Linked DNA regions of Homo sapiens. The protein of the gene in region 4 purifies or fractionates together with the protein of the main gene of each other region. This does not show direct contact. Each region holds a gene or a part of one and is shown on either strand. Other genes may lie near its edges. The genes, in order: SLC30A9, DENND6A, ARFGEF2, VSIG4, MTFP1, KIDINS220 and HEATR6.

Evidence for each region.
Region 1: the proteins of VSIG4 (region 4) and SLC30A9 purify together in Homo sapiens (affinity purification with mass spectrometry; 3 studies listed by BioGRID and IntAct, with this or other methods). This does not show direct contact.
Region 2: the proteins of VSIG4 (region 4) and DENND6A purify together in Homo sapiens (affinity purification with mass spectrometry; 3 studies listed by BioGRID and IntAct, with this or other methods). This does not show direct contact.
Region 3: the proteins of VSIG4 (region 4) and ARFGEF2 purify together in Homo sapiens (co-immunoprecipitation; 2 studies listed by BioGRID and IntAct, with this or other methods). This does not show direct contact.
Region 5: the proteins of VSIG4 (region 4) and MTFP1 purify together in Homo sapiens (affinity purification with mass spectrometry; 3 studies listed by BioGRID and IntAct, with this or other methods). This does not show direct contact.
Region 6: the proteins of VSIG4 (region 4) and KIDINS220 purify together in Homo sapiens (affinity purification with mass spectrometry; 3 studies listed by BioGRID and IntAct, with this or other methods). This does not show direct contact.
Region 7: the proteins of VSIG4 (region 4) and HEATR6 purify together in Homo sapiens (co-immunoprecipitation; 2 studies listed by BioGRID and IntAct, with this or other methods). This does not show direct contact.

Annotation. Positions count from the first base shown.
Region 1 is NC_000004.12:42,063,530-42,067,029, forward strand, and holds part of SLC30A9 (proton-coupled zinc antiporter SLC30A9, mitochondrial), read left to right. Parts: intron 1-1,780; coding exon 1,781-1,820; intron 1,821-2,955; coding exon of another isoform or gene 2,956-3,005; exon of another isoform or gene 3,006-3,020; coding exon 3,021-3,092; intron 3,093-3,500. UniProt on the Homo sapiens protein: Mitochondrial proton-coupled zinc ion antiporter mediating the export of zinc from the mitochondria and involved in zinc homeostasis, zinc mobilization as well as mitochondrial morphology and health.
Region 2 is NC_000003.12:57,683,078-57,686,577, forward strand, and holds part of DENND6A (protein DENND6A), read right to left. Parts: intron 1-3,500.
Region 3 is NC_000020.11:48,920,559-48,924,510, forward strand, and holds the start of ARFGEF2 (brefeldin A-inhibited guanine nucleotide-exchange protein 2), read left to right. Parts: upstream 1-1,152; 5' UTR 1,153-1,331; coding exon 1,332-1,452; intron 1,453-3,952. UniProt on the Homo sapiens protein: Promotes guanine-nucleotide exchange on ARF1 and ARF3 and to a lower extent on ARF5 and ARF6. Promotes the activation of ARF1/ARF5/ARF6 through replacement of GDP with GTP. Involved in the regulation of Golgi vesicular transport.
Region 4 is NC_000023.11:66,037,281-66,041,576, forward strand, and holds the start of VSIG4 (V-set and immunoglobulin domain-containing protein 4 isoform 1 precursor), read right to left. Parts: upstream 2,801-4,296; 5' UTR 2,719-2,800; coding exon 2,664-2,718; intron 1-2,663. UniProt on the Homo sapiens protein: Phagocytic receptor, strong negative regulator of T-cell proliferation and IL2 production. Potent inhibitor of the alternative complement pathway convertases.
Region 5 is NC_000022.11:30,424,496-30,428,567, reverse strand, and holds the start of MTFP1 (mitochondrial fission process protein 1), read right to left. Parts: upstream 2,801-4,072; 5' UTR 2,689-2,800; coding exon 2,622-2,688; intron 1,852-2,621; coding exon 1,724-1,851; intron 1,398-1,723; coding exon 1,165-1,397; intron 107-1,164; coding exon 34-106; coding exon of another isoform or gene 1-33. UniProt on the Homo sapiens protein: Involved in the mitochondrial division probably by regulating membrane fission. Loss-of-function induces the release of cytochrome c, which activates the caspase cascade and leads to apoptosis.
Region 6 is NC_000002.12:8,831,114-8,834,613, reverse strand, and holds part of KIDINS220 (kinase D-interacting substrate of 220 kDa), read left to right. Parts: intron 1-3,500. UniProt on the Homo sapiens protein: Promotes a prolonged MAP-kinase signaling by neurotrophins through activation of a Rap1-dependent mechanism. Provides a docking site for the CRKL-C3G complex, resulting in Rap1-dependent sustained ERK activation.
Region 7 is NC_000017.11:60,044,422-60,047,921, forward strand, and holds part of HEATR6 (HEAT repeat-containing protein 6), read right to left. Parts: intron 2,985-3,500; coding exon 2,888-2,984; intron 1,809-2,887; coding exon 1,604-1,808; intron 1-1,603. UniProt on the Homo sapiens protein: Amplification-dependent oncogene.

The DNA.
Region 1 (3,500 bases), on a different chromosome or scaffold from region 4:
TCCCGCATCCTGGGCTTCCTTCAGGTAGGAAGCCTGCACTGGGGGAATGGGAGGATAGCAGGATGATCACCCGTATGATCCCCTCTGGGGCTTCTGCCCCTCTCTCCTATTCCCTGGAAAGTGTTGAGGGTTTGGATAAGGGATAAAAACATACCACTTTACTGACTACAGTGTTATTTTGCATTGGTTTCCTCTGGCCTTTGTAGATGTTTAAAACTGTCTTTTTTTTTCTCATGGGCACTTCTTGGAGATTACCCTGCTTGGCTGCTCTGGCTATGGCTGCCCAAATTGATCACATAGCCTACCCTCTCAGCTTCTGCATCTCATGGTGTGGTTTCCAGACAGTGCTGAAGTTGTCTTGCATTTGGAAAGAATGCCCTTTGAGCAGCTGATCTCCTTATAAAAGACTCCTAGGGACCTGTGTGTTAAAACAGACATCTTTAACACACTTTCTGTGGGAGTGCAGGTTTTTCTCTCAAGCCCAATGATCTACTCTGCTGATACAGCCAATATCAGTTAGTAGGCTTGCGTATGGATGTATCACTCAGGTATGCATCAGACAGTTTGCTGTGATATCCAATATCCCGGGGGACACACATCAAGGCTACTGAACAATCTTAGTAGCTCAACAGCTTTCACCAAAGAAATCTTCATTTTTGGCCTCCTCAATTTCAGCTCTTCTTATGTGGTCTAGAGGATGTGGAGCTAGCATGTAGTCTAGTGGGTAGAGGCCCCAGGTTTGGGCTACCTTCTGTGCAAGGCCTGAATAGATGGTATAACACCTCCTTTTGGAATGTGGGGATACTTGTACCTATTTTCTTCTCTATTTTGAGTTGTAGTCAGAACTAGACAGAATCAATCTGTCTACTTTTTTAATATCCTGTTATATCATGCAAATCTACTTAATAACAAGCACATTAAACTAGGCTTATTTGTTATTCTCTAGTTTTCTATAGTTTTGATTGACTAGTTTCTTACCATAATACATTTCATATAATTAAAACAAACAAATGTGTTTCCTCCATTCTGAAAAGATTTGGCCACTTTATGGGTACTTCATTGTTCTAGCGTTCTTCTAATTTGTATAGTGTCACTTTATAGGGGCAAAGCACTCTCTGTAGTTAGAGATTAGGTAATTAGTTAAATTTTCAGTTGTGTATAAGTTTTAAAACTTCTAAAAGCTCTTGTGTCTTTCAGTAACTAAATGGGTTTCCATTAGACTATGGCCCTTTTTAAAATAGTGTTGGACTAGGTTCAAAGTTTTCAGACCTCTATTTTAGGAAAGCCTAGGGTTCTAAACATTGTTGAAAATTCTGTAGATGTTTGGTTTGAATTTCATTAAAATAAAAAAAATGTGTTGCTAGGTTAACTTTTTTTTTTTGATACACCCCTGTCTAAAGCTTTTTTTACCATCTTTAATTGAAGAGTGTCCTGGGATTGCAGGGAATGTGGTATTACCAAAAAACAAACATTGGTTACTGTTTGTAACTACTTATCTTTCTGAATCAGGATTTTCTTGGTATTAGGCATGGAAGCAAAATCCAGAAGTTACTTGAGTTTGGGTGTGGATCTTACTGTATCTGGTGTCTACCACTCCTGATATCAAATATTGTATTCATATCTCATTGTCCTCCTCATTTGAGTTGTTTCCCATTAGTAACCTTACTGTCTGGCTTAAATTTGAATTCGTGTTTTTGTTTTAGACATTACGGACTTTATATATGAACAATTGTGATTGGAAGTACTTAATTTATGCTTTATTTTAATATTTCTTTTCTAGGCATATTGTATTTTAGCAGGATCATTAGTATCTGAAGGAGGTATGTACTGTCACAAAGTATGTCTCTATTCTTAATTTAGTAATATATATTCAGCTGTCCATTATTATAGTTTGCTAAGTTCTGTTGATTAAAGAAAAGCAAGTGTGGGAATAGGCATCTAAGCTTTCTCTACTTTTAGGGAGTAAAGTCTTTGCATAATGTACTGTGGTTGTTCTGTAATGGATAGCTGTGGGGGGGTGTGTAACTGCGCCCTGCCATGGGATGGCATCCTGGCAAGGCCTCATTTCTCTTTGTGTCCTGAGCTGCTAGGATAGGCTCAAGTAGGTGACTATCAGATAGATGGAAGACAGTAACTGATGTGGCATGAAAGCGCTTAGCAAGCCCACCATATTTGTGGTTATTTTTAAACTATGTGGTGGTAAGAGGTGTTCCTTACAGTTTTCACTTTGCAAGCATTATTCCTTGATTGAACCCACCACCACTACTATCGCTGTTACTTGCCGATTCACTAAAAATTGGATAAATAATTATTTTACTTATTTAAAAGGGAAAGTATGTTTCATTTTTGAGTATCATACCATAATACTCAAAACATTTGAAATGGAGTATAAAAAACATAATTAAACTGAACTTTTAAAATTAGAGTTTAATAATATTCACCAGAAGAATATTATTTACTGGCTCTTGTGAGACAAATATTTCAAAGTTTTTGAAATACACAGCTATAGCAGTATGATGACAGAGAACTGCTAATATCAGTATAAAACTGCCTGATTCACTGCTGTGCTCATGTTTACTTCTGAAACATTGTAACTTTCTATGTATAATGTTCCCTTCATCTATTTTTAAAATTAACATTTTTTATTGACAGATCCTAATTGTATATGTTTATGGGGCCCCTCATCTTTGAAAGTCTATGAAATGGTTATAACACAACCTGCTTCAAAAGATTGGGAGGCTCAGAAATGAATGTGGTTAGTGTGGTGCTGCCAAATAGCAGCTCTTCAATAAACTAAAGCTGTTGTTATTAGTAATTATATTTAATTATTATGGTTTAGAACTATGGGGTTCATTTTATTATAATGATTAATTGATAACAACTAATTAACATAGAACTTGTCCTTATTGCCAACCCTAGTTTTAAAATGTTGTGCTTATTTGTTTATCTTTTGAGATGCCATCTTTAAAGTTTGGAGGCATGAAGTTTCTGTCTTGCTGATATGAATGCTTTTCTTTTAGCAACACTTCTTGTTGCTGTAAATGAACTTCGTAGGAATGCTCGGGCTAAAGGAATGTCATTTTACAAGTATGGTATGTATTTTAGAAACCAAGTGTTTGTTTCACCTCCCTTATTTGCTTAAAATTACTTAGTACTGTTATTGCTTTGTTCCTAATAGAAATGTACAAAATATATCTGAATATCATCCCTGTGTGGCTCTTACATATCCTTCAGCCCTTATTAAAAAGAAATGTAGTATAGAAATTTGAACATGGATACTTTATATTTGGATTTGACTTAAGTGAACTAAGGTATTTCTTTATATGGTTATATAACTTGAGAAAGTAATTTGACTTTATGTATCAGTTATTGTTGACATTTAAGCCAAGAAATTATGTTTGCATTGAGCAAGGTTTTTAAAATCATAATCTCTCATACACTTTTTTATCTTAACTTATATCTTGATTTTAAATGGATACTTATTAAAATGTTACCTGATA
Region 2 (3,500 bases), on a different chromosome or scaffold from region 4:
AGGTACTTATTATGGCCTATGCAAATGGTCCCAGTGCTCCTATTATAATAGGTACCAACAAAAATTTAATGATGCTACCCTCATACTGATCCTGTATTACTTACAAAGGACGCTTAAGGTTAGGTAGGAATTCACTAAATGAGTAATACAGATAGAATTCAAATAAACTAGACCAAAAGAGTAATTATTTCATTATTTCAGAAAAACTCAATAAATAATTACAATTGCTAACTTTATCAAGTGTTTTCCTTGTGCCAGGCACTGTATTGTATCAATTAATCCTCACAATACACTAGAAATGAGAACTATTATCATCTCACTTCATCTGCCCATGGCTATAAACTATTATCAGTTAGAAACCCTACCTTCAGGAAATCCAACTTTATGTCATTGACATAGGTCACGCTGGTCTTTTGTCCAAACAGAAGCAAGTATCTACTGTGCATTCCACAGGACGGTAAAGCATTTTGCCAACTAAAGGATCACAAAAATGCTAAAAGCAGTTCATACAACTCAGAAAATAGCCCTGGGTACTATTATTACACTGAGTATTAGCATGTAAACAGGAACACTTTGAGAAATGAGGTAAACTATTACTACCAAGAATTTAAGAATTTTAGTTCAAGCTACCGCTAGCATTTCACATCTTCTTTGCTTCAGTTTCCCTAAATAGTAAACAACACAGTATAGTGGGGGGAAATTAGGCTTCAGAATCAAAAGGACCAGGGTTCAAATCCTGGCTTATTAAGCAAGTGATATGGGGCAAGTTACCTCTTTAAGTTCCAGTTCCCTTATTTAAAAAGTGTTTAGCTCATGCCTGTAATTTCAGCACTTTGGGAGGCCGCAGCGGGTGGATCACAAGGTCAGGAGTTCAAGACCAGTCTAGCCAAGATGGTGAAACCCCATCTCTACTAAAAATACAAAAATTAGCCCGGTGTGGTGGTGGGCACCTGTAATCCCAGCTACTCAGGAGGCTGAGGCAGAGAATTGCTTGAACCCAGAAGGTGGAGGTTGCAGCGAGCCAAGATTGTGCCACTGCACTCCAGCCTGGGTGACAGAGTGAGACTCCGTCTCAAAAAAAAAAAAAAAAAAAGAGTTTATGGGCCAGGCACGGTGGCCCATGCCTGTAATCCCAGCACCTTGGGAGGCCAAGGTGGGCAGATCACGAGGTCAGGAGTTTGAGACCGGCCTGACCAACATGGTGAAACCCCGTCGTCTCTACTAAAAATACAAAAATTAGCTGGGTGCGGTGGCACGTGCCTGTAATCCCAGCTACTTAGGAGGCTGAGGCAGGAGAATCGCTGGAACTTGGGAATCAGAGGTTGCGGTGAGCTGAGATCGTGCCACTGCACTCTAGCCTGGGTGACAAAGCGAGACTCTGTTTCAAGAAAAGAGTCTAAAGCCAGGCATGGTGGCTCATGCCTATAATCCCAGCACTTTGGAAGGCTAAGGCAGGTGGACTGTGGGAGGCTGAGGCAGGCAGATCACTTGAGGCCAGGAGTTCAAGACCAGTCTGGGCAACACAGCAAAACCCTGTTTCTACAAAAAAACAAAAAAGTAGCCAGGCATGTTGGTACACACCTGTAGTCCAGCTACTTGACAGGCTGAGGTGAGAGAATTGCTTGAGCCTGGGAGGTCCAGGCTGCAGTGCACTGTAGCCTGGTGACACAGCATGACCCTGTCTCAAATAAATAAATAAAGTCCAAATATTACTTAATAATTAGTGACGGAAAGGAATAAATGAGGCTGGGTACAATGGCTCATGCCTGGGATCTCAACACTTTGGGAGGTGGAGGCAGGAGGTTCCCTTGAGTCCAGGAGTTCAAGATCACACTGGGCAACACAAAAATAAAACAATTTAATCAGGCATGGTGGCACACACCTGGAGTGCAATGGCACAGTCTCGGCTCACTGCAACCTCCGCCTCCCTGGTTCAAGTGATCCTCCTGCCTCAGCCTCCAGAGTAGCTGGGATTACAGGTATGCGCCACCATGCCTGGCTAATTTTTTTTTTTTTTTGTATTTTTAGTAGAGATGGGTTTCACCACGTTGGCCAAGCTAGTCTCGAACTCCTGACCTCAGCAGATCTGCCTGCCTCTGCCTCCCAAAGTGCTGGGATTACAGGCGTGAGCCACCACGTCCAGCCTAGAATTCTTGTTTATATGAGTTATATCTATCAACATTCACCACTGTAGAAACTAAAAGTATCATTAAAAAAAATTGTTTATTTATTTTAAAATAATAACCTATTACTCATTAACATATTCAATTTTTATGAAAAGTAACTATATTCAGGTTGAGTATTCCTTATCCAAAATGCTTGGTGGGATCAGAAGTGTTTTGGATCTCAGATCTTTTCAGATTCTAGAATATTTGAATTATACTTACTCAGTTGGACATCCCAAATCCAAAAACCTGAAATCCAAAATGCTCCAATGAGCATTTCCTTTAAAAAGCATCATGTCAGTACTCAGAAAGTTTCAGGTTTTGGAGCGTCTCAGATTTTGAATGTTTAGATTAGGAACACACAACCTGTATTCCTAAACAAAACAAAAACCTTACTAAGATGGCATTGTTTACATGTTTGCAAATATCTTTAATGTCTGATTTAACAGAAATAACTAGATTCTCATATCTGCTTCAGCATTCATTCTTTTTTTTTAAAAAAAAATTTGTTTTTCTTTAATGTTTGCTCTTGGCAGAATCATTCTATGTTCATTCTATTGCAATATGTTGTTCTGGTTGAAGAACATGAAGAAAAGCCATACATAGTTTGAAAACATCCTATAAATCCCCTGAAACGGTCTCAGAGATGCCCAGAAGTCCTCAGACCACATTTTGACAACAGCTGGTTTACAAGAAAAACAGAAAAGTTTATATAAAGAGAAAATTAAAAAACATACTCCAAACATGCCTACACATAATGATCCTCTGGAACTGATTCTGATTAAGCAGATGGGTGAGCCCCAGAATCCTCATATGTAACAAATGCCCCAGATGATTCTTATGATAAGAAGAACAAAATAAATAGAATCCCAATAATACAAAAATAGCCTAAATTTACCAAGATATAAATGTTTAGCCTCATTTTCAATAAGCATTAACAGATATTTCCATATCCCAGGTAAAACAGAACATAATCCTTTATTTCAAAGTTACATAATGGTGTAGAATTTTCAGGCACATATACCCTTGGCTCTCAAACAGCTCAAAGTTACTAAAGTTTATATCATAAAACCCAAGCTTAGAAATCTTTCAAAATAAATCTTTGATTACATAAGATTATAACTGCTCTCAGGTAAGGCAGTAAATGCTTGTTGCCTTCCAATACCATTCTTCCTTCTCCTTTTATTAATATAGGCATACCTTGTTTTATTGTGCATCATTTTATTGTGCTTTGCAGTTACCAGTTTCTACAAATTACAGGTTTGTGGCAAGCCTACATTAAGCAAGTCTATCAGCATCATTTTTCCAACAATGTGTTCACTTTGTGTCTCTGTG
Region 3 (3,952 bases), on a different chromosome or scaffold from region 4:
CCCCTTCCATTTCCTATTCTCCCAGCATGTTCTTTCCACTCTTCCTCACCTCCTTCCCCTTCACCTCCTTCCTACACCATTCCTTTTTCCATCTCTTTCCTGTTTTCCTAACTTGTTACTCTCATCTTTTTCTTTCTTTTCTGTTCTTCCTGACAGCTCCCCTTCCTACCTCCTCTCCCTTCACCCTTTCTCCTACTCTTTCCCCTCCTCTCATTTCTACCTCTCTTTCCTTTTCACTTCCCCTCTCCCTCCTGTCTTTCTCCTTTTTCTTTTACCTCTGTGCCTCCCTCTCACCTCTTCCCACACCACCTCATCTCCTCCATAACTAACTCACCTCCTTTTTGTTTGTTTGTTTTTTGAGACAGGGTCTCCTTCTGTGGCCCAGGCTGGAGTGCAGTGGTGCCATCACAGCTCACTGCGGCCTCAACCTCCGAGGCTCAAGCGATCCTCCCACCTCAGCCTCCCCAGTAGCTGGGACCACAAGCAGCGCCACCAGGCCCGGCTGTTTTACTTTTTATTTTGTAGAGAAAGGGTCTCCCTATGTTGCCCAGGCTGGTCTCGAACTCCTGGGCTCAAGCGATGCTCCCGCCTTGGCCTCCGGAAGCGCTGGGATTAGAGGCGTGAGCCGCCGCGCCGGGCCTCCCCCCTTCCCCTCCGCCGCCGCCTTCTCATCGCCCTTCCTCCTTCCTCCTGACGCCCCTTACTCCCGATCACTTCTCATTCATTCACCAGCTTCCAGTCCTCGCTCCCTCACCTCTTTTCTTTCCTACTCGCCTTCTCCTCCTGCCCCTTTATCATCTCTCCTTGTCACCGTTCTTTTTTGCCAATCCTCTCGTTCCCCTTCCTTTCCTCATCTCCTCTCTTACCCACGTCATCTCCATTCTCGTGCTCCCCTTCACCTCCCGTTACCTTGCGCTTCTCTCCTCTCATCTCCATCACCACCTCTCCCCGCTTTCGCCTTTCTTTAGCCCCCGCGTCCCCTATACCCTTCGCCCATGCCCACTCCCCTCCCCACCTTCTCTTCTTCCACCCTCCACCCTCGCCTTCTGTCTCTCGCCCACCTGACTCCGCTCCGCCCCCAGCCTTAGGCTCCGCCCCGCTGGGGGTCACGGGGCCGACGGACGCTAGGCGGCCGTAGCGGCCTCGCCAGTCACGTGGTCACGTGACGCGCTCCAACATGGCGGCGCCGTGGGGCCGAGGTGTCGCTTCCTGACGGGGCGGCGCGGACGGACGCGGCCGGTGCCGGCCGGGACGCCGGGCCCGCAGCCTAGCTCGCCATCTCGCTCACGCCGCCCGCCCGCGGGGCCGTCAGCCCCCGCCGGGCCGGGGCCATGCAGGAGAGCCAGACCAAGAGCATGTTCGTGTCCCGGGCCCTGGAGAAGATCCTAGCCGACAAGGAGGTGAAGCGGCCCCAGCACTCCCAGCTGCGCAGGGCCTGCCAGGTGGCGCTCGGTGGGTGAGCCGCTCCCGCCCTGCCCCGCGCTGGCCTCAGCACGTCGGCCGTTGCCCTATCCTACTCGGCCTTGGCCCGGCCTCCTGGCCTCCGCTTCCCCCCGATCCCGAATTCCACCCTTCCGGCCTCCTCCTCATTATACCCCCGGAGGAAGTGTTGCCCGGGCAGCTCGGGACTGGCCCAAGGTCACCTAGCAAGTTGGTGACAACCAGAGCTTGTTCCTCAGGGTTCCAGCTCAGGGCTTTTGCCACGATTCCTTGTCGCCCTGTTTCCTGGTTCCTCCCCTCACCACCTCCAAGTCCTAGAAACAGTAGCCCTTGCCCCAAGTTTTTTCGTTACCTGAGCTCTGCTGATTGGGGTTCCCCTAGGTGAACAGAGCATGTAGGAAGAGCCGTCCAACTGGTTTAGGGAAACCCCTGATTCTTGTTTTGGAAGTGCCCGTTGGAGAATGTTTTCCTTTGGTTTGGGGATCTCCCATAGCTCTTTCCCTCAAGGAAGGATTGTAGAAGGTGTTCTGGATCTCCCAGGCATTGTAGTGAGCAAGACATCTGCTTATTCCTAGCAGTCCACTAAAATACAAGGTCTTCAGCGCGAAGATACTTGTCTGACTTATTCATTGCTGTATCCCTTGCGCTTGCAACAGTGCCTGGCGCACAGTAGGTGCTCGATAAATATTTGCTGATTGAATGGACCCTCAGATTATGGAAAGAGGGAGAATTCTAACTAATAGTTAAAGGCTTGATAATTGATAGCAAAATCACTATCCTATCTTTCAGTTTTAATCATTTAACAAATATTTATCAAGTGCCCACTGCATACCAGGTACTGAGAATTCAGTGGGGAACAAGACGGACATGGTCCTTACCCCTATGGAGCTTATACTCGAATAGAGGAGACAAAATAATTAATTAAGAAAATAGGTGAGGTATTTTGGAATACTGATAAATACTATTTTGAAAATAAAACAGCAAGATGTGATAAAGAGGGCTTGAGGACTGCTTTCCATGGTCAGGAAAGTAATCTTTTCCAAGAGGAAAAGTAATCAGGTGGTCAGGAAAGTAATCTTTTCCAAGAGGGTGACACTTGAGCTGAATACTGAAAGGCAAGAACTATCCACCATATGGAGTTTCAGAAGAGAGTTCTTGGTGGGAGAATCCATGCATTTGACCAGAGCTGTTTTCAAGCTAATTCACTGCCCCAACGTCTTTGGTTTGGAATCTGTAAAGGCCTGTTTTTCCTAACAAAATGAGCAAATGGAAAGTTTGATTTTTAGTCACATAGTTTGAGATTGTTATCACCTTTCTCCTTTCATTTGCTACAAAGTATAGAGTAGTGTTCTTTTGGCATTTAGAAATAGGCTGGTGAACTTTGCACTTCCCTGGAAAGAAGGTCCCTGGCTTTCATCAGATTTTCAGAGGGCCCTGAGACTCCCTCAGGGGCCAACTATTGATGCAGAGGTGGTAGTCTAGATAATCTGGAAACAGTTGCTAGTCCGTGAAATTCAGGATCAGTGGAAGGAATTTACTGAGATGTAGATTTTTAAAGCTTTTCTCTTCCAATAACCAAGGCTGTTGGGTATTTTATCAGCAATGTGGGATAAGCACTGCAAAGCAGTTTGTTAGGCAAGAGCCTGGTATTTATAACTCCACGTTGAAATCTGCCTGGACTCTATCTTCTCGATATTGTTGTGGAGGTTTCAGAATAGTTATTTGGCAGAAGAGTTTTTATTTTTTCTTCAGAAAACTTCTTAACATAAAATTTTCACCAAAGTGTGCATCATATTATTGGAACCTACTTATAAAATTTTCATCTGGGTCATGAAGGGCCATTAACGCTGAGAATTTAATAGATATTTTCGGATCGTATCTTTGTTCAGAAGTTCAAGTTTTCCTAACACAAGTAGTGGAATGCATGTTTTCAGTTTTTAGTAGTGAATTGTAAAAAATGGCCTAGATAGGAAGTAATTTGACTACAGGTTATATGAATCACAAATTGGGGTTGTGCCAATGGCATAATAGGAACTGTCATAAGGGAACGTATGCATATTGTTAAGTGACCATCTTTTTTAAGAGAATAATTGTGTGTCATTGCTGTTAAATAGAAATGACTGCTTTTACTTAGAGTAGAACACATAGCAGAATGCCTGGTGATATTTCTCTCTGTCTCTCAAGGCCCAGTCTTGTGTCCAGTAGTCCCATTTAAGAAGAGAAATTTGGGGCCAGGTGCGGTGGCTCACGCCTGTAATCCCAGCACTTTAGGAGGCTGAGGCAGGCAGATCACGAGGTCAGGAGATCGAAACCATCCTGGCTAACACGGTGAAACCCCGCCTCTACTAAAAATAACAAAAAAAATTAGCTGGGCGCTGTGGCGGGCACCTGTAGTCCCACCTACTCGGGAGGCTGAGGCAGGAGAATGGCGTGAACCCAGGAGGTGGAGCTTGCAGTGAGCTGAGATTGCGCCACTGCACTCCAGCCTGGGCGACAAAACAAGACTCTGTCT
Region 4 (4,296 bases):
ATATATAATATATATTATATAATAATATAATATATAATATATATTATATAATAATATAATATAATATATAATATATATTATATAATAATATAATATAATATATAATATATATTATGTAATAATATTAATATATAATATATATCATATAATAATATAATATATAATATAATTATATAATAATATAATATATATAATAATTATATAATACAATATATAATATATATTATATAATAATAATATAATATAATATATTCATAATATATTATATTATATTATATATTTATATACTTATTATATTATATTACTTCCTTTATTATTACTTCCACTTTACTGATAATTACTTATATATAATATATAATAATTATATAATTATTACTGATAATTACTTATATATAATATATAACATTATATTATATTATACTTATTACTGATAAGTATATATACTTATTACTAAGTATATAAACTTATTACTGATACGTATATATACTTATTGCTGATAAGTATATATACTTATTGCTGATAAGTATATATACAGTATTGAGCTTAATGTGGTCCTGAGACCCAGCCTTATAAAAGCAAATGTCTGATGCCTGTGTAATGGCACTGAAGAAAAGAAAGGTTGAATTTACTAGGTGTGTGCTCCTTTATAAGACCCATTCTAGGTCTCTTTCTGAATCCCCTTCCTCCCATCATCACAAAGAGGTTGACATTTTCCATATCTCTATCCCATTCCCCCACATGACTGGCTTCTCTCCCTTTCCTGGAATGCCTCCTGGATGGAGGATTAACTTATATAATAGATGTTTATAAAATGTTTCTGAAATGTTTAAAATGTATATAAAATGTGAATATTAGAAATTTTTTAAATTTTGATTATCTTGACATATCTCTTAGCCCCACAGGAAGAGGCTAGCAGCTTACTCTGGCCGCTACAGGGTTTTTAGCAGTGAAGCTGCAGTCCCACAGAGTTGTCCAGCTGAGAAACCCCTTTAAGACCAGTCAAGTCAACCTCCTCACTGTACAGATGGGCTAGGAACAATGAGGTCCAGGGAGAGGGAAGGTATTATTTGCAGCTCAGCATAACCTGAGCCTGAGGTCTATAGTATAAGATCCTGTGTACAAATGGAAGGCCTGCTTCCAGGTCTGGAAAAGCTCATAGGCTGGGGAAGGAACAAGACACATGAGTGCTCTCTCTCTCTCTCACACACACACACACACACACACACATGAATGCACACACACATACACACACACAAACAAAGGATTTAAATTTAACATTTCTAAAATGCTCCCTCAAGCCCCAGGCTTAAGCCCTAGCTCAAACCAACAGACTTGGAGAAGGTAGAGAGATACATTATAAAACCTGCTAGAGAATGGAAATGTGGTAGTTATAGAAAGAAAAATGTTTTTTCAGGAGCATTAACTCTGCCACTAATGCTCTTTGGCTTGGGGGCAAATTATTTTTTCTCTTGGTTGACTTAATTCAGAGTCTTTTCTAACTCTGAGGTTCCAGAGTGTGATGGGTCACAGAGCCCCAGGATAGGGTAACCTAATCAGAGTCAGCTACGGAAAGCTGGATTCTTTCTGACCTAACAAGTGACACCAAGCTAACACCTATCCAGCCTTTTTCTCTAGGGATGATAGGGAAGCAGCAAAATCCCCCTTTACCCTATATTGGATCTCACTTAGCTGTTACCCAGGTTGAGTTTCCTGAAAATCCATCTCACTTCTCAGGAGTGTAGATGAGGATAGAGCTTCCCAAGCTCCAAGGAAATAATGCCACTATGGAATAGTCCATCCTCCTTTGGGATTTGTATCCAGCCCATAAATAGCCCAGACAAATTGAGCCATGTCTATAGGGAAGTGAGTTATCCCAGGAATGGGTAAGAAACCAAGTCCTATGAAGACCAGTTGAAAAAGCTGGGGCTGTTCAGCTTGGAGGAGAGAAGAGTCAAGGAGACATAGTACTTGTCCTCAGGGCTTTGAAGGGCTATCACAGGGCAAGGAAGCATCTATGTTCTGTGTAGCCCCAAGAAGCAAAGCTGGGGTTTTTGGATGGAAGTCAGAGGGAACTGGATTTAGTTCAACACAAATAAGAACTTTCTAACAGTTGGAGCTGCTCCTGGATGGACTAGATGGTCTGGGGAGGTAGTGAACAGTGAAATCTCAATCACTACTGGATGTTTCTGAGCACTTATTCATGACAATGAAGGGTGGTATAGGTTACTTCTATAGTCCTATCCAACTCTTAGAAAACACTCCTTCTTCGGGGGCTGTATATTTTAACAGAGACCAAAGCTTGGAAGCAGAGTGGTTAAGTCCAATTGTAGAATTTTAGATGAGAGACAGCAGATGGAGGAAAGATTCGGATGTCATTGGGAACCTTCTTGATGCCCCTGAGATACAAGCCCTAGAAAATAATGCAGATGTTTTCCAAGAGAAAAATCCTTTTTCAATTTCTGCCCAAACTTGCCTTCTGGCTTCTTCAGCAGCCTTCAACTACATCCATCCGTTTTGCTCAAGGCTGAGAGAGCCTGCAGAGTTTGGCTGAGAAGACTCACCTGCCCAGTAGGAATAGGCTTTCCATAGTAGACATTAAACACCAACCCTCTAGCCTTTTGCCTAAGCCAGCAATGGCAGCCAGGCCCCCCTTTCTGCCTTACCATAAGTGTCCACTGTTAGGTGCCCCAGGAGTAGCAGGCCCAGTAAGATCCCCATCACAGCCAGAGCTACTTCTGTCCTTTCTTCCAGCCTCCTGCTACCAAAGAGGCTCAAACTTCTGGTGGCCGCCAGCGTCTGTGACTGCTTACTTCCCTTCCTTCCCTATATCTCTCACTCAAACTCCTAGTCCCATCACACATTCCCCTTCCTTCCCTATTTCAGTACAGGTCATGTGGGGTGCCCCCCTTCCCCCACCTCCTTGGGGTTGGAGGTTCCAGGATGAGTGAAGCAATTCTTCCCCCTGCTAGGGTATTGACTTGACTTTCCTTGGAGCCAATGGGGCTTTCTGGTCTTTGATCTCCTAGGCTGTATTTATTTTGAGTCTCCTCCACAAGATTCAGAGGTTGTGGGGGCGACCTTTGGGATGAGTCTTCCCACTCCAGTATGGCGGTGTTTTCCTTTGTGGTGAGCCCAGGGAGAAGAGATCAACTTTGCTGACCTACCCAATTTTCATTAGTTGTACTGTTAACCCTTGCCTGTGCAGCCTATGCAACTGGACAGGGTGTTGGGCCCGGGGTGCTTTTGGGCTTAAGAGTACAAGAGTTTAGTGTATTAAAGGGCTTTCTACACATCAAAGCTTGAATAATTGACAAGCCAATGGATAAGGCTGTTATGGGTGAATATGCCTCATATCTCATATTGGGGAAGCTCTTTGAATCACTTTCTACAATGGCTCCACCTCTCTGATGGTAAGGGAGAATTCATTTTCATTAATGTTCTCCATGCTTTTTCATAAGGAATTTATTTTTTACTTCTTTTAAGGGAAATTTAAGCCTAGCCTCCAGTGCAGCAGCCCATTAGTGGTATGCTGTATTAGGTTGAATTTTTCATTGACTTCCAATTGGTACAGGCCCTTGACCTACAAGAGAGTAATATTATGCCTCCTAGCAAAGCTCAACTGCTCCAGAAATTGCTCCTCTTCACAGGCCCCAGAGTGACTGTAATTTCATCAGCAGTCTAACTAGGTTTGGCACTGCGCTTTGTCTACTAAGCTTTGAAACAATAAGCACTTTCAAAAGCACAAATACATCCCAAAAATTCATACTGCACTGTAAGTAACAGCTAAGCTTAGTTTACTCTTTGATTGGAGGGATAGGAAAGGACTTGGTCAGGGGAGGGAGGAGTTTGTGCAGAGATGGGGAGTGGGAATATAAAGAAACATACTTGCCAAGGGGTGGCTGCATGCAGATGATTTGGAGCTGTGCACGGGCTAAGGAGACATTCCAGCATTTCAGGACACATTATTACATGGAATTCTATCAATCACCTCTGCCTCTAGGGCCCAATCCCCCTTGGCTGGTTGTTCCTTGTTTTTTGAGTACTGCACTCATTCCATCTCACTGGAAATTTCAGCCATTTTTTCCCACCGGGTCCTCACTCAGGAAACCCTGAACTTCACAGAACCCTCCTTTGATATTTTTCAACCAACACCCTATCACCACTACACCACCACCACCGCACAGACACACACACACACACACACACACACACGCACACACATACACACACACACACCCCTCCCCTTCCCCGCTAAAAAGCCCACTGGACAGATGTAAATTTCTGCCTGGCCAGGTG
Region 5 (4,072 bases), on a different chromosome or scaffold from region 4:
AGGCCGATGCACAGGCCAGGTACCAGAGTATGATCAGGAGGAGCTGGGCTTCCCCACTGTTGGGTAGAGCTTGCGCAGGCTGGAGTCCAGGAGGAAATCCACCGACCTGTAGGGAGTGGAAGGGTGGTGAGCAGGTGACCAAGGGTGTTCATGAGGGAACAGAAGGCAGAAGGCCAGGGTTAGGGAAAGGGGCGCTTAGATGCAGGATACAAATGCCATCCAGCCAGAGACCCACCCTTATCCTGATCCTTCCACCTTGGGCTACCTGGGGAAGCTAGAATCAAACTCCCAGAATAGAAGCCATCCTCTTCTTTATTCAGGAGGAAACTGAGGTACTGGGTAAAAGACTTGCTCAGGGCCTCAGGGTCAGCTATCTTCTCCTGGAGAAAGACTGCTCCTCTCACTCTTACATTGGTCTGGTTGGGTTGAGCCCATATCTAGTTCTAAGACCAAGCACGTGACCCAAGCCTGGCCAATCAGCAAAGGGAAACTGGCTCATAGGGTGGGCATGCAGTCCAGAATGGACCAATGACACCCTTCCTTGGGATTTTTGTTGTTACTGTTTAAAAGCTTCTGCTGGGGGAGGCTAAGCTGGTGGGATAGAACTTGGGAGCTGCTAGGGCCATTTCTACTCCCACAAGGAGAAAGCAGGTGAAGCCAGCAAGAAATAGGGTGGGGTGGGGAGAAAGGCAGCAGGATGGGGAGACCCAGACCCCTAATGACATAATTTGGGTACCTAGATCTAGCCATGCCTGAATGCAACACAGCCCTGGACTTTTACTCCATTTTATTCAAATATTCAGTTTGAGTTAGGCTTCTGTCACCAATACCTCCCAAAATGCATCCCCTCTAGGGTGCACCTGCTCCTGCTTCTCTCTGGTTGTTTTGTAACACTAGACTTTCTTTCTGGGAATTTACTTGTCCTGTGTCCCATACCCTCAACGCACCCCTCTTCTTTTATTGCTAAAGTGCCTGCCATACCATATGACAAGGGTACAGGCTGTCCTTTCTAACCCAGGAGCCAAGTGCCAGCCTTGTCCCTGCTATTGCTCCAGCAAAGTGGGCATACCCCACACTTCACAGAGTCTAGCTCTACCTGGAGACTGGATGATCCACTCTCATCACTGGAGAGTGGATGATCCCTGAGGCCAAGAAGGTACCCACCTGTCAATGGGGTGGATAATGATGGGGATGGTCAACAGCCCAAGCGCGGTGGTGGTCCACTTGCGGACAGCCAGGGGCCAGCGGGTGGCAGTGCCCAGGACATAGAGAGAGGCAGCACACACGCGGTTGATGGTGAAGCCCGGAATGGCCACAGAGGCTAGAGCCTGCCATACAAAGGTGTCCACCACAGCCACAGTCACCCTGGCGCTGCGGCCTGCTTCAGGGCTGGGCACCTGGTGGGCGCAGAGACACTTAATCCAGCTGGGGCAGAGGCAGAAAATCCTGCGACAAGGGGCACGAGGCTAGACCGGGAGGGGCAAGTGGCCAGTGGACTTGTCCGCACCCAGGAGTGGGGTACAGTCTGCCACATCCAGTTCGGGGAGTGGGAGTGTGGGGGCAGGGGTACACTGTCCTACAAACAGGACTGTCTATGGACTGCACTAGGCAAGGTTGTAGGGACTGGAGTGTCCCACAGGGACTTTATCACATGCAAGGCTGTGGACTGAACCACACAAGAAGAGAGCTAGGGTTGGGGGTTGGAAAATAGGCTAACACTCACCTCTCCAGCCTTCTTGCCTTTGTCAATGGCATCCGCCAGCACGTAGGAGCTGGCCACGCCATAGCTCAGCCACACCACCGCCGCTGGCACAAGAGAGCGGAAAGCCTCGCCCACCTCATTGGCATAGCCTGGGGGAGGGAACATTTAATTCCTAGGCTCGCAACTGTTCCACGAGGGGGCGTTGGAGCAGGCTGGTTCTCATCCTAGCCAGCTAAGCAGTCCCTGGGTGACCTTAGGCAAGTGACTTGACCTCTCTGAGCCTCCCTTTCCGAGATGTAAACTGGTGCCATGATGCCCACCTCGGACTCGGGCCACTGAGGGCGGACTGAGCACTGAGTCACTGTTACCATTGCTTATTGGTTAGATTTCCTGGTCTTGGTCCCAGGAGTAACTGCACTAATGAGGTGACAGGCACCCAGAGGGGCAGAGTGATCGAGGGCAGCGCCACTGACCAGACGCTCGCCAAGTGCCAGGGCTTTCTGCGCTTTATCCCATTCCACCCTCGCAACCACCACCCAATGAGAGAGGCCCTCGTGTGTATCTCGTTTGTTTTTTGTTTTGTTTTTGTTTTTTTGCCGAGGAGGAAACTGAGGTTCAGACAGAGCCAGTGCGTGTCAGGACCGAAATGGGAGTGGAGATCCCGACTCCACAGCCAGCCAGAGCGCATGCCAGAGCGGGCAGCCCGCTCACCCCATGGGAGCTTCCGCCCTGGGCGACCCACCAGGGTAGTGTGACCTTGGGCAAGTCCCTAGCCCTGTCTGAGCCCAGTCTCCGGCCCAAAAGCAGAATGAGAACTAAGATCATCCCGCCTCCTCCAGGCCCCGGGCGGGCGTCCGGCGACCCCTGCTTCTCCAGCCCAGTGGTGGTGGGGTCGCCGCGCCCGTCGCCCCGCGCTCACCCAGGTATCGCACCCACGTGTCCCGGTAGAGATCGCGCTCTGCGCCCCGCGGCTGCGGCTCTGACATGACTCTCCCGCCACGGCCCCGGCCACTACAGCCGGTACTGGCTCCACTGCAGTCTCCGCCGCCGGCACTTGGGTCTGCCCGGCCGGGACCCGCCGAAAGTCCCGCGCCGAAGGACAGGTCAGGAAATCTCCGCCAGCAGGGAGCGTCTGCAAATTCCCCCCGCGCACCGAAGCCCCTCTCCCAGGCTCGGGTTTTACAGACTGGTTTTCGTCACGTTTTCTCTGAGCTGTTGGCGCTAATCGCTCCCAGGACTGAGTGTAGGTTTTGGAGCCAAAGAGACAGGGGATCAAGTTGGGGGATGCTACACTGCAAAGCTTGTGACCTCGGGCTTATCCAGCATCTCTTTATTCATTTGTAAAAACGAGGGAGGGACACAGGCTGGGCCCGTTGGCTCACGCCTGTGATCCCAGCACTTTGGGAGGCCGGAGGCGGGAAGATCTCTTGAGCCCAAGGGTTCGAGAACAGCCTGGACAACATAGCGAGACCTCGTCTCTACTAAAAAAAAAAAAAAAAAATTAATGTAATAAATAAAATGGGGAACACAATAGTGTCCACTCCCTAGGATGGTTCCGAGGATTAATTATAACAGTCACCATTTATTGAGTTTATTGCCAGTCTACATGTTCGCTAAAGGACTCTCCATGTCTTACACCTGAAACCCTCCCACCAGCCTGGGAGCCCGTTTTACAGGTGAGAAAATGGAGGCACAGAGAAGGTGGGTCATTTTCCCAGAACACACAGCTGCTAAGTGGTGAAGTTGTGATTTGAATCCAAACAGTGTGGATCCAGATCCCGTGCTCTTAATGCGAGCTCTAAATGAGGCTAGAGGAGTGAACGGTGAGCCCCTGGGAGGTAGGTGCCTGGACTCTGGAGTCCCTTCTCAGCAGTCGCCATGTATAACTAGGAAGCACTCGCATTTAACTGGATCAGTATGTCCCCAGACTGAGCTTCTTGGGGACAGGATGTTGGATGAATTAATTAACGAATGAATGAATCGGGCAAGGGAGACAGAGTTGGGGTTAGTGATTACAACAGGAGGAAGCCTTCCCCCGCTGGACCTCAGTTCACCCAGGTGAGCAATGTGTGCACTTCACTAAGTCTCTGTGACTCCTTGGCGGGTATAATTGAGCGGCGTTGGAGACAATCCTGGGTTCAAATCCTAGCTGTGCCGCCTACTGGCTGTTAGCCTCCCTGAGCCCCAGTTCCCACGTCTGCAAAAAAAATGAGAGTAGCCAACATTGACGAGCACTTACTTATACCAAGCTCTTAAGCGCTTTGCACGGCTTATTTCCTTTAATCTTTGCAACAACCCAAAGTGTAATAGTAAGCACAGGGTTTTTGCGTGATACCCGGTAGGCCTTATTAAGAATTAGCTCTTATTTTC
Region 6 (3,500 bases), on a different chromosome or scaffold from region 4:
TAGTCTTTATTCTCATTGAGCTACATTTGTTTGGCTAGGGGAAGCAGACCAAAAACAAAGTATGTGGTATGTGGAGTGATGCTAGGTGTTATAAAGAAGACCTTTAAAGTAGGGCTGTGGAAGGGGGATATAGTAGAGGGGGAGAGGGCTGTTTTATACACGTATAAATGGTATACACCATTTATACACGGTGGTCAGAGAAGCTCTGATCAGGTGACGTATGTACAGAAAGTCACTGTGGCCTGAGTAGAGTCAAGGAGAAGGAGCAGCAAGAGTTGAGCTTAGGGAGGTGGAGAAGGGGTGGAATAGATCAAGCAAGGCCTTGGCCCTGGTAGGGATCTGGGATTTTGAGTGAGAGGACAACCGTTGGGATGTTTTGAGCACAGAATGGTTGTAAGAAGACACGATTCAGGAGGACCACTTAGGCCTCTGTGTGGAGGGGGCAAGCGCTGCCACCCAGGCCCAGGAATGTCAGCACCAGGGTAGGCTCTGGGGACTGCACAGGGGTGATTGTTGCTGGAGACTTAAGTGGGAGGAGGAGAAGAGGGGCTGGAGATAGAGAACCATGGGAGGGGCCACATTCAGGAACTTACTGTGTCGTATCTGGAGGATAAGAAATAAGTAAGCCTTGGGCAGCATGGCACTATTGTTGCTTTCATGCACTGTGTCTGTAACCGGAGAAAAGTTATAGGGTGCGTCTATTAACCGATTGGCCTTTTGGTGAAAGCATTTTGAATACATTTAGAGATTTTGCCTATTAAATTGGCAAGTTCTAAAAATGGACTTACTACAACATAAATTTTTTGTTCTGACATTGCTGTTGGCTACATCTGCCATTTTCAAAACGGGTGGCAAGACATTAATTTTTTTGCTAATTGTGCAAAAGAATGTATAGCCTTATATTCCCATTAGAGAGAAAGTGCTGTGGACATTAGATTCAACTGATGTCCATTTATTCAAGAAATATAGTGTCTTGTATGGGCCAGCTATTAAGCTAAGTGTTGGGTATTTGGTATAGAACGAAAGAAAATAATTCATTCCTTTTAAAAGCTTATATCCTAGTGGGAGAGACAGCTATTAATCAGGTAAATATGTCCCATTCCAGCAGGTGTAGCTAAAAAAAAAAAAAAAAAAGACAAATTTAAAAAACATAAATATGTAAATTACAAGTTTAGTAAAGTGTTATGAAGGAATAAAAAAGATTCCATAATAGAGAACAATCCAGGTTATGAGAATCAACCAAGAAAGGGTGGTTAAGAAATGATCATATTCTGTTATTATGTAAAACAGCTAATATTTATTGGCTTCATATGGGTTAGGTATTATTTTAATCCCATTGCATGTAATTGTGCAGTTATTTGAAGATGGGGAAACTCAGACACTGAGGTGAAGAAACTACCCCAGGGGACAGGGAGTGATAAAGAGAGGCTGGTTAATAAGTACAGACATACAGTTAGGTAGAAGGAGTAAGCTGTAGTGTTCAGCAGCATGGTACTATGCTTAACAGTTTATTGTGTATTTTATTTTTTATGGTATATTTTAAAGTAGCTAGAAGATAAGATTTGAGATGTTCCCAGCACCAAGAAATGAGAAAAGTTTGAGGTGATGGATATCCTAAATACTCTGATTTGATCATCACACATCCTATGCATGTAATCCAAATATTACACATACCCCATAAACATGTACAATTATTATGTATTAGTTAAAAAAATTAAGGAAAAAAAAAAGAAACTAGCCTGGGATGATATAATGGTCAGTAGTAAAGTCAGGAGTCAAACCAAGGTAGTCTGGCTCTAGGGTCCATACTTTTGACCACTAGACAGCTTCGTTTTAAGCCGAAAGGGCTTTTGGAAGTGAACGTTGAACTGAAATGTGAAAGATGAGAAGCTGTAGTTTTCCTCCTGTGATGAAACATTTTTTTTTCTATTGAAAATGAACGTAGACTTAATACATCAAGTAAAACAATATAGCACAAAGACGCGTGAAGGCAAAGCTAATCATCTCCTCCTTTTAGTCCTACATGGTAAGATAACGAATTTTACAGCCAGGTGTGTGTCCTTCCACACTTTTCTTTTTGTTCATGTGTACACACTGGATAGATACATATATGGGGGTCTTATTTATTTTATCAAGTAGAATTATACTACACACGTGCTCTTAAACATGACAGCGTGTCATTGGTTTTACTATTGTGTGTATCAACAGATGTGGATTTAATGTTCTAATTTTATTTTGTAATTTCTAGGCACTTATATATGTGCTTACAAACATCTTATGACATTTAATAATCAATTATTCAGTGAAATTTATTAAACACTGTCAGTGCCCTCTAGTCAAAGACTGCCAGGAACATACCTCTAGTTGAACAAAGTTGGTCTTATTAACTCCCTGCAATGAAGGAGAATGCCTGTCCTAGGGAACGTTGGGGGTCTCTGTAACAGGTTGTTAGAAAGGACTTAGAAGATTCGAGATGATGTTAGGTGATTCGGGGAAGAGTTCAAGGAAGCAAAGCTTTGCTCAGTCTCGGGTGCTTCAGGAATAAGGAGGAGTGGGAATTCTGCAATTGGATATTTAAAATCTTAACGAAAAGGCAAGAGGTATGGAGTAAGGCTAAAGCTGTAATTGATAAAGAAGCAGCAATGCTTCATATTAGCCACGATAGGAAGATGTTTGGGCATTTTGTGGTTTGGGTGATGTTCATGTTTTTGTCTATGTTCAGATATGATTCCAGAGTAGTCTTATTTTTGTCTTCATATCCTGGTGACAGAGTGACCTTGTTTGATGTTGGCATTCTTTGAAATTGTTGCATTTATGTTAGAACACCAAGTCTGGCTGTGTGTGCCGGGTCAGTTCCCGACAGTCAGGGGCTGCTTTTCTCTCTCACCTCCTGTTGTGTAGGCATTGTGCTAGATATAAAGCAGATCCTGCTGCAAGAACTTCTAGTCTAAGGGAGATGTGGAGAGAGTGAGTAAAATGGAGAGGAGAGTTGAGTGTGATGTGAGCAGTCTACAACTAGATGTATACACAGGTGTGGAGGAGCCCAGGGCCTGGCCCAGCTTGGGGTAAGCAGCCAGTCAATGAAGGCTTCCAGAAGATCTGTTAGAGCCATGTTCTTAAGGATGGGTAGGAGCTGTTCAGGCATATATACGTGGAGAATGGACTTTCTAAGCAGAGGGGGCATTAAGTGCAAAGGTCTGGAAAGAACAAAGTGTGGGGCAGTGAAGGAGCTGCAAGTAGATCAGTCTGGCTGGAGCTGGAGGTGTAGATGTGACTATGTAGAGGGTGGGAGGGATGGGGCTGAGGAGGGGAGAAAGATAAGGCTGGAATGGTAAGATGGGGCCAGATTGTGAAGAATCTGCATGCCCTCATCATAATCAAGAATTGAACTTACTGAGTTTTCACTCTGCTCAGTGGAGAGCAAAGCTTTCCGTAGGAATTGTGTATTTGCATCTTTACAATGGCTTTAAAAGCCTTAGAAGGCGTAAGTTCCTTGAATA
Region 7 (3,500 bases), on a different chromosome or scaffold from region 4:
TCTTCTCTGGGAGGATTCTGTCCCGTTGGGGTATGGCTTTGTGGGCAGAGCGTGGACTGAACTGCAACCCCACCTATCCTCTCAGCTGGGCACTTCTGAGCTGTGTGCAAGCCACACACTGCATGCTCACCTGCAACAGCATCCAGACACTGCTCTGGCCATAGCCAGTCATGCATTTTATTGCAAAGAAAAAGAAAACTTACAATTTCAAGAATAAGATGCCCAGATTTCTATCTTTTCTCCACACCTGTAGGCCCTAGGAAATCAGCCTGCTTTCCTCCTTACCAGAGCTACTGCTACCCACTCCACTTTGGGGTGTCCTTACTCAAGATGGGTGACAGAGTAGAATGCAGCTTCTCTTAACTCTCCCAGCCCTTCCTGGCTTCTCTGTTGCCTCTGAAGACCGGCAAGCAGGCCCTTTCCATTTGGTGGATGCCAGTGCCATTGACAATGGGCCACTGCTAGAGCTATGAGACACTCACAATCCGACCCGTCAGAGTCCTTTATCAGTTTCTAGCTCCCTTTTCTTATGTGGCTCTTGATAGCTCTGCTACTGGATGCTTTCTAGTTCTCAAACTTCCTGCCTCTTTGGAGCTTCCCTTTCCCTCCAAGTCATGCAGGTAAACTTCTCTCTCTAGTAGGCTGAGGGCAAGGGCCATACAGGAAGGCTGGTAGGAGCCAACCACCACTGAGGTGCCCTGGTTTCAAGGACTTCTTGGCTCTCCAGAAGGCGGATAACCACCTCAATGGGCTCCAACCCAAAAGGTCACCCTTAGGTGACTTCCTCAATGGAAGAAGCCGGGAAGCTACCTTACATACTCCCAGCTGACTGGTCTGCCTGGACGCTCTGGGCAATAAAGGGGAGCAGAGCCAGACTCCCCTCACTTGATGTGTGCTCTCCTCTCCAGGAACACATCCTTAGGTCTCAGATCTGAGAGAGAGAGATGCAATAAAGCGAACGCTGGCATTCAAAGTGAGCGAGGTTTGGAGGCTCCGATCCATACACCTAAGCAGCTACTGGTCCTGAATGACATATCAAGGTGCATGGCATGCCACTACTTAGAGACAGATGCCCTCCTTACATTTATTAATGGCATCCACTTCTGTACACAGCTCATAGGGGATTTCCAGTTTATATTCCCTCTCATTCCAGTTTTTTTCCTTCCTGTTTTCTTGACCATTAAAGTAATATATGCTTATTGTAGACAACTGAGAAAATGAAAACAGAAAAAATCCTACCCATCCAGAGGCAATCACTGTTAATAATTAGTCCAATTTCCTTTCAGTCTTTTTTCTACCCATCTATTGAGATCATTCTGTAGAAATTATTTAATACCTGCTTTCATTTGTTTAACATCAGAAGTATTTTTCCAGATTATCAAATTCTTGTAAGTAATTTTAAATGGCAACAAAATATCCCATTATATATCCCATTGTATAGGTAATGATGTATTTCAATGTCCCCCTAAACTTGTCTTCAGTATGTCTCCATTTTTTCCTAATACTATGACAAATAACATGTGACAAACATCTTTAACAACAACGTAGATTGGTGTGTGTCCCAAGAGGCTTTCCACCAGGGAGTGAAGGGAAACTTTCTTACCTAAAGGAAGGGCAGGATTTTTAAATACATTTCCCATTGCATAACAAGCATTCCATCGGACTTTCATGGCAGCTTCTGTTAGAACAGTAGAAATTAGGGCCTGGATAGACTCCTCAATGATTTCTGCAAATGTGGGTTTTTCTATATGAGAGGGTTGCAGAAAATGAAGCAAATTTCCAAGGGCCCGGACTGCATTGCTTTTTACCTAGAAAAAATGTAAATGCTTTAGAAATCTGTTTGGCCAAAGAGATGTTTCCAAAAGTCTAATTTCAGCTTTAAAAAAACCCAGGAGGTCTTCAACTTCTTAAAGCAAGTCCTTGGAACTCACAAGGTCTGCTCTGGTTAACATCCTGAGCCATCAGAAATGTGAGGTTCTACAGAACTCCTCTCTCTGATTATTTATTTATTTATTTTATTTAGTGCTAGACAGGACCTCAGAGAGGTCCATCTTCCTTGTTTTACTGAGATGGAGTATAAGGACCGGGAACAACAGGACAAGGCTGATTGATAGCAAGACAATGAGGAGAAGCTAGGTTCCATAATTCCAGTCCAATACTTTTCTACTAGACTAGAGTCTCAACCTCTGCAGCCCATCAGAATCATTTGGGGAGGTTTCTCCTTTTGTTTTAAAACCGATTCGGAGGCCCTAACCTCAGAATTTCTGATTGAATTACTCTGAGGTAGGGCTTCCTGGGTGATTACCAGATTTTCAGAAGTAGTATTAAAGTGAGCACATGGTATGGGTCAGGTACTGTGCTAGGTGCTTTAACATAAGGCATCTTCATATCCAGTGAGGTATATAACTTCCATGTTACATGTGAGGAGCTGACCTTCAGAGAAGTTATGTAATATACCAAACTTACCCAGTTACTAAAGGGCGAGCCAGGGCTTGAATCCATGTATGTCTGACCTAAAGCCCAGACATGTGCTTTTTAAACTTATTAGTTTAACAGGTAATATTCAAAGCCAAGAGCTACTCATCTTTCTGACTTGTCAATTTTTTTTTTTTGGAAAATAAAAAAAAGTTAATTTTAAAAGGAATCTGAATATGTCATGTAGTATTACAATGGGCACTGATATTTTTCAGGAGGCAGGAGACAGTAAAGAAACCATACACGTGTGGAATGGGCCATTTATACCCTGAGCACACCCTCAGTCTCTTTTGAACAGGAGTACATTTGGTGGGACAGTCTGAGGAACATCAAGCCACACTGAACTACCACACTGCAGCTACAATACATTAACTATCTGTTTGGGAGATACTGGGTTTTGTTGTGAGTCTACCTTGTCTTTATCCTTGGATGCTTCTATAGCTGATCGTAACATTTTCAAGAGCAGGAGACCAGAGAACTCTTCCTGGAAACTTGGGTCTGGTGTTTCCCTGTTCCACCCAAAGCAGACAACACATGTTAAAAGGTAAATACACTTAAATATATACATATAGAAATATATTCAATTAGTATAAGCCTAAAAGTTTAGGAAAACAGTTTAACAAATCTGCTTAGATTATATCAAGAAACTTACATTATATATCTTTTGACCCAATAGTTCCCCACATAGGAATGTCTCAAAAAAAAAAAAATCTCAAAATGCAGATTTCATGCACAAAAATATTCCCTGAATATAAAAGCCTACAAGCCTAAAGACTAAAACAAATGTTCAGTAATAGAAAAATGGTTAATCATCACACAGTGATAATTATGTAATCATAAATAAGGATTTCTAACAAGTCAATAATAGAATGCTTACACATTTTACATGTTGCTTATACGCTGAAGTGACAAAAAGCAGGACACGTGCACATGAATAACCAGCTACCTCTGGGGAGGGGAACTAAGGTGTCAGGGTAGAAGAAAGGCTTCACACTGAATGCTGCTTTGTACTATCTGGATTTTTT